2 linked regions of the Homo sapiens genome follow. The protein of the gene in region 2 interacts with the protein of the main gene of each other region in a pairwise test. Each region holds a gene or a part of one and is shown on either strand. Other genes may lie near its edges.

The links.
Region 1: the proteins of RNF146 (region 2) and NDUFAF3 interact in binary tests that used the Homo sapiens proteins (3 or more experiments, as listed by UniProt).

The regions. Positions count from the first base shown.
Region 1 is NC_000003.12:49,017,588-49,024,014, reverse strand, and holds NDUFAF3 (NADH dehydrogenase [ubiquinone] 1 alpha subcomplex assembly factor 3 isoform a precursor), read right to left. Parts: upstream 1,895-6,427; 5' UTR 1,871-1,894; coding exon 1,794-1,870; intron 1,670-1,793; coding exon 1,477-1,669; intron 1,314-1,476; coding exon 1,247-1,313; intron 1,140-1,246; coding exon 1,039-1,139; intron 960-1,038; coding exon 843-959; 3' UTR 520-842; downstream 1-519. Other genes in the region: DALRD3 (DALR anticodon-binding domain-containing protein 3), read left to right, coding at 5,451-5,615, 5,697-5,992, 6,146-6,402. UniProt on the Homo sapiens protein: Essential factor for the assembly of mitochondrial NADH:ubiquinone oxidoreductase complex (complex I).
Region 2 is NC_000006.12:127,262,848-127,269,865, reverse strand, and holds the start of RNF146 (E3 ubiquitin-protein ligase RNF146), read right to left. Parts: upstream 3,003-7,018; 5' UTR 2,941-3,002; exon of another isoform or gene 2,771-2,940; intron 1-2,770. UniProt on the Homo sapiens protein: E3 ubiquitin-protein ligase that specifically binds poly-ADP-ribosylated (PARsylated) proteins and mediates their ubiquitination and subsequent degradation. May regulate many important biological processes, such as cell survival and DNA damage response.

The DNA of each region.
Region 1 (6,427 bases), on a different chromosome or scaffold from region 2:
TGGCCATATAGGACCAGGTCAACACACATATATATTCCCTAACTTGAATCTCTCTCGGCCAGGCACATTGGCTCACGTCTGTAATCCCAGCACTTTGGGAGGCAGGTGGATCACTTGAGATCAGGAGTTCGAGACCATCCTGGCCAACATGGTGAACCCTTTCTCTACTAAAAATACAAAAATTAGCTGGGCGTGGTGATGCATACCTCTAGTCCCAGCTACTCAGGAGGCTGAGGCAGGAGAATCACTGAAACCCAGGAGGCGGAGGTTGCAGTGAGCTGAGACTGCGCCACTGCACTCCACCCTGGCGAAAGAGCAAGACTCATCTCCAGAAAAAAAAAAAAAAAAAAAAGCCCAGTGTAGTGGTAGGGGCCTCTAATTCCAGCTACTCAGGAGGCTGAGGCACGAGAATCGCTTGAATCCAGGAGGTGGAGGTTGTAGTGGGCCAAGATCACGCCACTGCACTGCAGCCCGGGCGACAGCGAGACTCCATCTCAAAAAAAGAAAAACAATCAGCGATTTTGTGAGAAAAGCCGTTGAGGTCCTCTCAAATCTGCATGTGAGCAAGTAGGTCTACAACAGGCAAACATACTGCTTCCCGACTTCTGAAAAGTCAAGGAATCCTAAGTAATCTAGATGAAAAAGTGACTCCTTGGTTTCTTCACATTCCCCTCCAAGAGCCCAGTGAGCCATCAGCTCCTGGCCAGCAACACACCTGATACAAAATGGGAGAAGTGTATAAATTATTATGTTGATAAGCAAGATAAGTGCCAAAGGGTAGATAAGAGTGAAAGCATTGGGAAGCCTGGCAGAGTGCAGTCAGCAGGTCAGTTCCTGGCGGTTCATTGAGCAGCTTGGCCCAAAGATGTAAGTGAAGTCCCTCCTGGTGGAGGGATGAGAGCAGCTCCAGTTACTCGGCCTTCATGACACAGGAAGTTGAAGGTGGCACAGGCATTGGGCTGCAAAGAAAAGGCCAGCATCAGCCTGTCTAGCGCCAGGCCTGTGCTCCCCGCAGCATGCCCCAGTCCCGGGACTCACCGTGTCCTGCACTTCCACAGCAATGCCCCGCTGCCTCATGGCTTGAAGCACCTGGGACTGCAGCCTCTCGGTCCGGTCTCCAGTCCCCACCACCACGATCTCTAGGGAAGGGTGGGTGTGGCTAGTCTACAGTTCTGTTGAGAGGCTGCAGTGGGGGTCGCCTTCTGGGGCCCAGAACACCTCTGTTCTCCCTCCCCTTCCCCAGTACCTATCCGGGGCTCCAGCAACCAGAAGAGGGAAAAGCTGTCTTCGGTGATGTCCTGGTGGGATCCCACCTGTGCAGGGAGGAGGCACATTTAATACGACAAATCCACGCAGCCTCTCCCCATCTCCATCCACTGCAGGAGGAGACAGAGGAAAGCCAAGTTTGCAGGGACCAAGCAGGGTGAGGGCCTGTGACTCTGGGCCTCAGTTTCCACACTGCGGGCCAGGACTCACGTTCCACTGCACCACCGAGTGCGGGAGCAGAGCGCAGGGGCCGAGCACGCGGTTTCCGTTTATCATGAAGCCGCGGCTGTTGTAGCTGTCGATGTACATTGCCTGAGCGGCCTCGCGTTGCAGCAGAGAGATGCGCGTCCGCTGATACAGCTCGTCATCCGCCGGCGAGAGCCGATGCCCTCGCCGCGGGGCCCTGCGGAGGGAAAGGGTCAGGGGCGCGGGGCCGGGCCGGGCAGCCCGAGAGGCCGGAAGGTGCTGGGCTGGCAGTCGCCGGCCCTAGGGGGCTGGATGGTCGAGGGCGCGGGGTCCAAGCTCACCAGGGAAGCTCAACGGGCGGACAGCGCAGCGAGGGTCGCGCTCGGTACAAGCTACGTAGCGCGAGAGCGGTGGCCATGGCTGACCAACGCGCGGCGAAGTCGTCACCGGCGCCGTTAGTCCCCGGGTTGGGAGGGCCCTGCGGAGCCTGACCCAGCGTGGCTGCAGCGCCCCCTGCGTCCCGGAGGGCACCGCACAGCTCGACCGGCCCAGCAGGCGAGTGTCCTCAGTCTTAGGAGGCCGAGTTCCCCGACCTCCGGCGCAGCTCCAGTGTCAGCACCTGCCGCCCTCCCCGCCCCGGGCCCTTGCCCATAGTCCCGGGGGAGTGGAACACCTGGCAGCGTGGCCACCCTCAGGGCGTTGCCTGGGCCGCAGCCGCGGCCTGGCCCCCGGGCTCTCAGCTATTAAGCCGCGCTCCCGGGGCGGGGCGACCGCCCACCTGGTCGCGTCCCGAACACCTGGCCAGGCGGTGGGTGCCAGACTTCTAGCCCCTAATTCCAGCCTTTGGGGCTTCGGGCACCGTGGGCGGGGCAGCCGGCTCAAGTTTCTCCGGCTAGACGCGGAAGCACGCCCCGCCCTAACCGTCACCCGCGCGACCGTTGGCCTCTCCGCAGCGCGCGGAGAGGGGCGTGGCCGAGCGTGGATTGGCTTCTCGGGTTCTCTAGGGGGCGTGGCCAGGTGGTTTCTCCTTAAAATGGCTCCAAGTCTGCAGGCAGCCAGAGCAAGCGGAAGGGCAAGCTGTGATAGTGTTTGGGTGGCTGTTCGGCTGGCCCAGACCAGGCCGAACCGGACCAGACTTGAAGTAGAAGCGCGTGGAGCATCACCTTGTCCTCGTTCACTCTGCTCGCGTCCTGGGAGTCCCCCGTCCCCCGTCTTGATCCAAGTCAAGGGCCTACTGGCGCGAGAGTCGCTGGCCCCCGCGCGGGGTTTGGGCATCTCGGCACGCCGGCTCTGTCGTGGCCTCAGGGGAACATTGTCGCTTTCGCTACCCGCGGGGCCGGGCGAGCGGGAAGCTCGGCACAGTGGGAGCCTGGTGGTGGGTCTCCTGGGGCCGGTCGCAATGGGTTTCCGGGGGTCCCGCGGCTGCTCTGTGGACCCCTTCGGCCCCTGGTGCTCCGGGCGCTGGCAGCGTCACCGGACAAAGGCCACCGAGCGCGGGGGTGTCCCCGAGGTGGACGCGCGGGTTTACTTCCTCTCCGGCCCCACGGGCGCGCTTCCCTCCTGACGGATTCCGAAGCCCGCCCCACCACCGTCACCGCACCAGTGGCCCAGGCTTCGTGGGACCAACAGGGCTAATCCTGCCCCACGGATCTAATCCGGATCGGGACCCGGTCCCAGGGGAGGCCCCCACCTCCCCTTCTATTGTTCTGTGGCCCAGGTGAGCGTCTTGTTCCCTCTAGACTCCGTTTCACAACCTACTCCCGGGTCTTCCTCCTGGGACTGGGGATGGGCGGGTTCTGATGTGGCCCCAGGGCGAGTGACCTGGGGGCAGGAGCTCCCCCGCCCCCCGCCAACGGCTGGACAGCGGGCAACGGAATCCCAAAAGCAGCTGTTGTCTCCAGAGCATTCCAGCTGCGCTTGGATTTCGTCCCCTGCTCTCCTGCCTGAGCAGCGCCCTGGCCCAGATGGGGTGCCCCTGACCCCCAGACATACTTTACTGAGCTGCTTGGGTCTCAGTTCCTCTCAGTTGCGCCCTCAGGCTGGAGGTGATGGGTGTAGACGTGGGAGAGCCGAGGCTGGTGGCCATCTCTGGAACCCTGGGGAGGATTGGCGAGGGAGGGTGGACCCAGGACCTCTGGGTAGGGCTGCAATGGTAGTGACTCCCCCAGGGCTGCCTCAGCCCGCATCTCGCTAAAGATAGCCCTCTTACTTCCTGGGGAAAAACCACCCCAACCGTCTTCGTGGATGAGAGTATCTGAAGTCCTCAGTTTGACTGAGGGTTCCCAACCCTGCTAAGCAGTTGTCTCCAGGTCATGCACCTTCAGAATGGAAAGCGCTTTGGAATGACACGATCACTCCCGTTGAGTGGGCACCCGAGAAGCCATCGGGAATGTCGTGTCCGCCCAGTGCTCTTTCGGCGCCTCCCAGCAGGGCCTCAGCCCTGGCCCAGAAAGGGGCCTTGCCAAGCTTTTCCTGCCCCTGGGTTTCCCTGCTCTCCGGATTTCCCAACTCTCTCTACTGAGTTAGCTTCTCTATTAAAAGGAATGGGGGTGGGGTGGGGGGTGAGTAAGTTACAGTGAAATGAAGACATTTGGGAACCTTTGTGGGAGAAAGAAAAAGACCTTTCCTATTGGTAGAGGAGCAAGATACTCCAACTGAGGCCTATTTTCTATTATGGTCGCATTATTTGGTTGGCCCGTAAATGGCTGTTGCCTAAAACAGGAAGCTTTAAGGATCGTTGTTAAAGCACACCAGGTTAAAGGAGTCACATTAAAAGCTGGTCATTCTGAGCCGGGCGCGGTGGCTCACGCCTGTAATCCCAGCACTTTGGGAGGCCGAGGCAGGCGGATCACCTGAGGTCGGGAGTTCGAGGCTTGACAAACATGGAGAAACCCCGTCTCTATTAAAAATACAAAAGTAGCCGGGCGTGGTGGCGCGTGCCTGTAATCCCAGCTACTTGGGAGACTGAGGCAGGATAATCACTTGAACCCGGGAGGGGGAGGTTGCGGTGAGCCAAGATCACACCACTGTACTCCAGCCTGGGCAACAGGAGCGAAACTCCGTCTCAAAAAAAAAAAAAAAAAGTCTGGTAATTCTGGAAGCCATCATGATGGTTGTGATTTCTCAGGTATCAAGAGAAGAAAACCGCCAACTGTATCAGAGTGCTTATTTATTGGGCATAAAGACCACCCGGGCTGGGTGCAGTGGCTGATGCCTGTAATCCCAGCACTTTCGGAGGCCGAGGCGGGCAGGTCACGAGGTCAGGAGTTCGAGACCAGCCTGGCCAACATGGCGAAACCCCGTCTCTACTAAAAATACAAAAATTAGCCGGGCGTGGTGGCGGGCGCCCGTAATCCCAGCTACTCGGGAGGCTGAGGAGGAGAATCCTGTGAATCCGGGAGGTGGAGGCTGCAGTGAGCCGAGATCGTGCCACTGCACTCCAGCCTGGGAGACAAGAGCAAGACTCCGTCTCAAACAAACAAAAAAACACCCATATCTCAAACGAGAAAATGCTTGCAAATAACCTGAAACCGCGGAACACTATTCTTTTTAAAACGAGATATTTTAAGTAGGTCGTGAAAGTGGCCTTAATGTTATACTGCCTTATTCCAGTGACGAATATTCATCATGTGTAAAATGGGAGAAATGAAATGTTATTAAAACAAACATGTGAGACTTCGATGAGAAGAGACGGTACCCGGTCTAAGCGCCCACCGGGTCGCGAGGATCCTTTTCCTGGTTAAGGCCTGGGTCACAGCGAAAGAACCCTAGGCCCAGGGAGGGCCCCGAGATTTCAGATCCGGGGCCCGGCTGTGCAGGTGGACCACGCGGAAGGGGCGCTGGGGGCGGTAGGTCGAAAGCAGCCGACAGGGCTACCACTGGCGCACCTGTCCACTTACGGGGACCACCGCCGCATCCCCGCCCCAGCTAGTCGGTCCTTTCCGGAAGTTCCACCTCCCTAAATTTTTTTCCGGTTCCGCTTACTCCTTCCGGTCACCATGGCGACCAGGCGCCTTGGGGTCGGGGAGACGCTGGGGGCCCTCAACGCGGCCCTGGGGCCAGGCGGTCCGGTGTGGATCAAGGAGACGCGCACCCGCCACCTGCGTTCCCGAGACTTTCTGGCACCGCACCGCGCGCTGCAGGCGCGCTTCGATGACGGCCAGGTGGGCGTGAGCCGGGCGGGGCCGTGCGGCCGGGAGATGGGCCCCGTGCCGTGGCTCTTTTACACGCCCGTTCTCCCGCAGGTTCCGGAGCATTTGCTCCATGCCCTCGCCTGCCTGCAGGGCCCCGGTGTGGCCCCGGTGCTGCGCTGCGCGCCGACCCCCGCGGGTCTGTCTCTCCAACTGCAGCGGTCCGCCGTCTTCGAGCGCGTCCTCAGCGCCGTGGCCGCCTATGCCACGCCCGCCTCGCCTGCCTCGCTGGGCCAGCGCGTCTTACTACACTGCCCAGCACTGCGCAGCTCCCCCTGCGCACTCCGCTTGAGCCAGCTGCGTACGGTGCTCGTGGCCGATCACCTGGCGCGAGCCCTGCGCGCTCACGGGTGAGCGGGGCCGCGGGGCCGGAATGGAGAAAGTGGGACTGCCGGGTACCTAGAAAGCGAGCGGCGCCGCCCGTGGGGACTGCGGCTGGAGGTGGGAAGTCGTGGCGAGCTGGACCAGGTGCTCAGACTGAGGCGGCCGCCCTCCCTTCGCAGGGTGTGCGTGCGCCTAGTGCCAGCTGTGCGGGATCCGCACATGCTGACCTTCCTGCAGCAACTGCGGGTGGACTGGCCCGCTGCCTCGGAGAGAGCTTCCTCCCACACCCTGAGGAGCCACGCCCTTGAAGAACTTACCTCTGCTAATGACGGGAGGACACTGTCCCCTGGCATCCTAGGCAGACTGTGTCTGAAGGAGCTGGTGGAAGAACAGGGCCGCACAGCTGGCTATGACCCCAACCTGGACAACTGTCTGGGTAGGACCTGAAGCCTAGCAGGGCC
Region 2 (7,018 bases):
TCACTCAGTGACAGAAAGAAAAAATACTTGAAATGTTCCAACTTTTGGTACACAACTCAAAAAAAATTATATATACATAAAAGGAGTAGATAAATCAGGTGTGAGTTAGCAGACACATCTTAGTATTTTTTATAAACCAGTCACAAATTGAGAGATGTAACTAAATGCCCTAATGTCTCAATTTTTAGCCCTCATCATCTCCTGCTAAAAATTAGCTAAGAAAAAGCATAGGTCATACTTGGAAACTTCAGACAAAACTCATTTCAACTAAATGGGGTCTGATACTTTAAAGAATTATTTCCCTTTAAGACGTTACTATGTGGCAGTCTACTTACTGCCTTCACAATCTTTATACTAGCCCATTAAACCCTTTAATTTTTCTCAAAACAACAAAAAAGTGAGCTTTGCATTTTATTTCAAAACATGAGATGTAAAAGTGAACGAATATTGTCTTTTAATCATATCACACACAGATGTTTCTTAGCCAGCAACCATTTCATAAATAAGAAAGCTCTTTGGCAAATTATCTGTGTGACCTTGGTCAAGTCATAACCCCCAGTCTTTTGTTATCTCATCCTACTCTATAATTCTGTAATTCTAAGTTCTAAATGCTTTAATTAGCAGTCCGTTAACAACATTTTGGATTTGAATTAACCCAAAAGGTAACACGCCATGAAAACTAAAGATAGTCCGTAAGTAAGCACAGGTGGTTGTAGCCAAGTGTTACATAAATTAGTTTCTATATCCACAAAGATGTTGTTTCACAAATTCAGATTCCTCAGGCACAAGGCAACCAAGAGAATGGAAAAGGCTCAGTACCTTCTATTACTAACACGGGAGAAAAATACGCATTCGAATTCCCAACTGTCAGTGCTGTTAGATGTTTCCTGGTAGTATATGGTTAACATATAAAATAATATTCTTTAAAAAGATCGATATTGTGAAAACAAAAGATTTAATATCCTTTTCTTCTTTTGACTCAAAATATCGTTTTGGATCCTTTAAAAAAAAAAGTCTGTTCCTTTCCTCTGACAAGTTAGGTTGGTGGAGACTGAAACAAAACACTTTGTAAGTTGACATCTCCTTTTAAAAGAAGTTATTTCTTTTTTCTTCTCTTGTCTAAAAGACCAGCTATTTGGAGAGAGTTTTCCTGATAATTATAATTCTACCAAGTTCTGAACAACCAGCGAAGAAAAAAAATATTTAAATGTATTTCCAGTCTGCCCACATGATACACTGGCTCATTTGAGACATAAATTCTAAATGAAAGATTGGGCTGAACAACATCCTCCACTTTAAGATATACAAGGCACCAAAACAAACACATCCAAAATCTATTTTTAGAGTGGTGTTCACTCTTCCGGTTTTCTCTTTAAAACGAGATTTAGTTGACCTATTTTCATGTGTTTTTAGGGCACCCAGACACTCTATACAAACAATATTTGCTAATCATAAAACAGCAAAGCCAAAATCACAAATCCTGTTATCTGTGTGGGACATTTTCTCCACGTGTCCTTACGTGCCATGTCTTTGAAAAGTCTAAATATAGATTCACTGACTAAAATGTCCTAAGTCTTCCAAATTCTATAATTATATACTGGATTGAATGCCAATATTATACGTTCACATCCCATTTGAAAAGTACACACACGAGGTGGGGGGGATGTGCCCACTACCTGAAATGCCAATCATACAAAGAACAAAGCGTACCCTATCATCTTTGGGCTTTCTTCTCTCCTCAGTTCTACACTGTTTCGATATTACAAAAATATTAAACAAAATGTTCAAAACTTGAGAAATAAGTGCTCACTAAAATGGCACTTAGAGAAAATAAATTAAAACATATACCAATATGATTAACGAGAAAAGATTCTAGTTGCCAGGATGTGTGTGTAAACTTACAGTCCTGTAGGTTTTACCTGTGGAGAGGACGGTTCCGTCTCCACTCTTAAAACAATTTTACATTCTTTAGAAGCCTTAGCAAAATAAATAGCGACAACAATGGAAGACCCACACTCCTTCAGACGGGATGGAGGGTAGGAAGAGAACTCCCCACCCAACAATCAGAACAAAGCAACAGCCTCAGCTTTTAAGATGCAGAGGGTTTGGAGGCTCAAGGGATATTCTGAGATCTCTTAATTGTTCCGATGCTTCAACAGCCGTCAAAAACAACTAAGAATATGCAGCGCTGGGCTTCACTAGGACAAGGTGCAGGGATTGCTCTCTTCGTTTTAGGCAAGACCGAGACACTGAGCAGGAGAAAAAAAAGGAGGAAGAGCGAGAGAAGAGAAAGCAGCAGCCAGAGACACTCCGGGAAAAGGCAAAAATGCAGACTGTACGCCCTGGCTTCGATCTGACCCAAGGCCCAAACTGTCTGACCCCACACGGGAAAACATGGAGCAGGCTACCGCCGAAAAACCATCGCCGCCCCTACACCTCGAGGCCAGAAGGTCCCCGGGTAAAGGCCTAAAACCACGGCCCAGAGGGGAGGAGAGGGACCCGCCTGCCACCCGAGGCAGCGAAGCGGGCTCAGGCGGAAGAGGCTGCGCAGTAATGGCCGCTGCTCCGCCCCTCGCACCCGGACCGAGACCAGCTCCGGCCGTCACCCAGGGCAGGGGCTGCGGCGCCCTCGGGCAGCGCAGGGGCTGTCACGGTCGTCTTGCCTGCCCCAGCAGCCAAGGCGGGGGTGGCGGAAAGGGCTGAACTGTCCCATCCCGCCTCTGCGCGGACAGCCGGGGCCGCGCCAGCCCAAGGGCGTCCATCTACGTACCGGCCCCTGACCCCGCCGCCGCCCCTCTCAGGCCCCGAGCGCAAGGCCGACCCGGAGTACGTTGCGGCTGGAGGTGACACCGCGAGCTATGCCTCCTCTCCCCGAGTGAGGATCCTAGAGTGGCCGGCGTTCACCCTGCTCCCCCGAGAGGGCCTCGCTCCGACTCCCACCTCTCCGGCCACAGCTGCGGCCACCTCGCAGTCTTTTCTCTCTGGCCTCGGAGCCCGCAGCTGCCGGGAACGCGCGCGGCCGTCACGTGACCACCCGGCGCGTCGCGGAGGAGGGGCCGCGACGCGCCGCGCACCCGCACCCGCACCGGCGAGCTAACTCCGGCGCCTCATCGTTCTGCCCCTGTCTCGCGCCGCTGTCTGCCGGTACTCTCTTGCCTGTGGGGAGCGGCGACTTCGCTGCTTGCATTCTTCTGGCTTCTTTAGAGTGTGCTTGCTTTGTATTAGGGCCCAGAGGCTCTGAAAGAGTGCAGTTCCAACAGAAAGAGATTTGGGGTGGAGGAAGTAAAACGTGTGTAGGACCAGCAGGTGGTGCTGCTCAAAAATCCAGCTTTGCTATCCTGAGGAAGCTCTGGGGCGCCTAGCTGAGTTTCGGCTTAAAGATCCCTTAGCAAAAGTACTGCTTGTTCCCTTTCAAGAAAAAAAATGGGGAGGGGGGGGACGGAGGGGAGAGAGTACTGTAGGACTTTCCAATTTGTTCTCCTTTTTAATGGTTGAGCAATTTAATCGGGGAAAAAATGAGTATTAGTTTTCTTTTGAAACCCCACCCTTTTTTTAAAAAAAACAGAATAGTGCCTGAGAAACTGAAGAAATTAATCTGCATGATAATCTAAAATTAAAGAGGTTATTTTGATCGCAAGCCTGTGGTTTTAAACATCAGAACTCTAGCAGTAATTCACCATTTTAGCATGTACATTTCCTTTTTCAGAACTGATTAAATTTTCCTAATTTGTAGGAAAATGAAGAGGGTGGAAGAGCAGACCTTTTATCTTTAGAAGAGTATGTATTTCAACATTCTATGACAGCGTCTTCTCATTTGCATTAGTGTTGCATTTTGGGATTTCATTAACTGTTTGATTCAGGATTGGAAGTTTTCAGTGTCCTTATAGGTATAGAAATGTATATGTTTTCTGTTATTCCTCTGAAATCAGTTTATTTCAGGGTTCTCATTCATATATATCAATATGTAACCCAATCTCTTGAAGGGTGCATCTAGTTCAGTGATGCTTGCGCGTGTATGCAATACTGTTCCATACATGTAGAAATATTGAAGTGTATATCCTTTAACTTTAAGCTTAGTTTTCTATCTTTATCTTCTTATTAGCCACTCAGTTTTGTCCCTCTATCCTACACAGCCCATGAACAGAGAATAGCTAAAATTTGATATGTACTCGAAGATTCCAGCTTGAAGAGGTAATGCTAATATTAACTAACAATGTGCCAGGTGTTGCTCTAAGTGCTTTATTCATATATACCCACTTAATTCTCATAATAAACTATGAGGTAGGCACTATTATTATTCCCATTTTACAGAGAGAGAGACACACACAGCTGAGATTTGAATCCAGGCACAGACTGTAAGATGTCAGCTAGTTCAACCCCTTCTCACTCATACCCAAGGTCTTTGTATTTCAGTAAATGGTTGCATCTTTCCTTGTTCAAACCCACCTTTAACTCCTCTCTTTTATGTCTTATATGCATTTGGCATATAACCTGTTGGCTCTTCCTTCAAAGTATATCCAACTACTTACCACCTCCGCTACAATCTGCATCATCTCTTGTTTGGATTATAGTGTTACGGTAGACCAGGAACTAGTCTTTTGACTCTATCCTTAATACAGAATCCTAAATAAATCTACTTAAAAAGAAGTGAGATCGTACCACTCCTTTGCTCAAAGTCTCCTGTGGCTTCCCAACACAAGTAAAAACCAAAGTCCTAACGATGGCTTTAAAATCCTCCCCTCATTACCTCTTTGACCCCACAGACTGTTTACCCAGCTTTGTATTCCCAGAAAGCTCTCCACAAGCTGCCAACCTCATAGTCTTTGCAGTTGTGGTTTCCTCTGCTTAGAACACTCTTCCCCATCATGCTCCCTCCATATGTGCTCAGATGTCCAACTCTTCAGTCAGTCCCTCTACTTGTCAGCATATTTTAAGTCATGATGTTTCCATTCCCAATATTTCATATTTCCTCCTTTACTTTTTAATACTTATCACAGTGTAATGGATAATTTATTTTACTTACTAATCTTCATCATATTTCTCATCACATTAGGACGCAAGACACAGGAGGCCAGGAATGTGTGTTCTGTTTTGTATCTCAACTGCCAGGAATAGTGCCTGACACACTTAAAGAGGTTCTCTGTAAATATGTGTTACATGAATGAGTAAATGAATGAATGAATGAATGAATACACACATGGCCGGGCAGTAGCTCACGCCTGTAATCCCAGGACTTTAGGAGGCCGAAGTGGGCGGATCACGAGGTCAGTAGATCAAGACCACCGTGGCTAACACAGTGAAACCCTGTCTCTACTAAAAACACAAAAAAATTAGCTGGGCATGGTGGCACGCGCCTGTAATCCCAGCTACTCGGGAGGCTGAGGCAGGAGAATCGCTTGAACCTGGGAGGCGGAAGTTGCCCGAGATCGTGTCACTGCACTCCAGCCTGCACTGCAACAGAGCAAGACTCCGTCTCAAAAAAACCCCAAAAACCACATTTGTGTATGTGAGTGTGTATATATATCCCCATTTATATATATATATGAATATATATATATCTCCATTTATATATATATATGAATATATCCCCATTTGTATATATATATGAATAAAAGTGAACTTCTCATTTTTCAGTAGTTGCATATGAAAAGCAGAATTGAATGCATGGAATACTATACACCCTACCTCCATCAGCCACTTGAAAGAAAGATAGAAGTTTATATCTTTGAATAACACAGGACAGCACCTCTCAACATTGTCAGAGTGCTGGTTTCCAGTAATTAAGAGTAACTGGTTTCCAGTAATTTTAAGTACCAAAACTTCAAATTATTTGCTTAAATAAATCAGAGCCTAACAGTTTCAATGTATTTCTGTAATAATGTTACTGTCACTGGGATTCCATTTTGCTTCATTGAATCAAAGGTAAAGAAGTTGCAGCTGACTGCTAGGAATTACCCAGTTGCCTGTTTGCTTATAGCTTATTGTCTATTTCCCACAACTTACAAAATACTTTGCTGAATACCACACATCTCCAGGCACCTACTCTTCTCCATTTATCCTTCCAACACTCAAAAATTGTCCAATGTTATTTGTTTTACTTAAGGATCAAAGCATTTTTTTTTGTTTACTTAATATCTGAAGACATCCATGAAAATGCATGAGAAAATGATGTGTTACAATAGAATGTACGTTGAAACCACTCGTGGCTAGTTTAGGGCGGCGGTGTTCCAAGTGTTATCTAGTGACCCATAGGGGTCCTTTGACTCTTGCAGAGTGTCTGAGGGAAAATTGTTCTTATAATAATACTAAGACTCTAGTTGCTTTGTTTACTTGCACTCTCAAATGTACAGTGGAGTTTTCCAGAAGCTACATGGTATGTGATGTAGCAATAGATTGATTATAGAAGCAGATATGAGAATTTGACTATATCTATTAAACCAGTCATTAAAACGATGTAAAAAAAAAAAAAAAGTAAAACTGCACTCTTCTTTCATTCAGTTAGCTTTGTTTTGGAAAATGTAGTGTTTTTTTTTTTAATAAAGTATGTTAATACAATGAGTCATTTTTAAATGAATTAGTATATATTGTAAACCATTCTCAATTTCAACTTTTAATTTGGTAAATATTGATTAGCTCATAAAAGTTTTTTGGGGTCTTCTATAAATTAGCACTGTCAAAGGGTCCTGAGACCAAATAAGAATGCTTGTCTGGGGCTATTTTGCTTACCAACTCTAAGTTAAATTTCTTCCCTTTTCACATGCCGGCAACCATCTGATAGCTGTGGACACAACTTTCTCATATGCCTGGAAACAGAACAAACCAGATTCAGGAATGTACCAGTCATTATAGCTAGCAGATGAATGGAAATCAAACCAAGAGGAAGCTTTGGAAAGCAAACTTTGTTTATTTTAATTAAAAACTTTGTTTCCAGAGCTGATACATAGGTTGGTTTCTGTCCTATCATTTGATGTTCTACTTACAGTAATCAAACAGTATATTATTTTCTAGTAGAACTCCT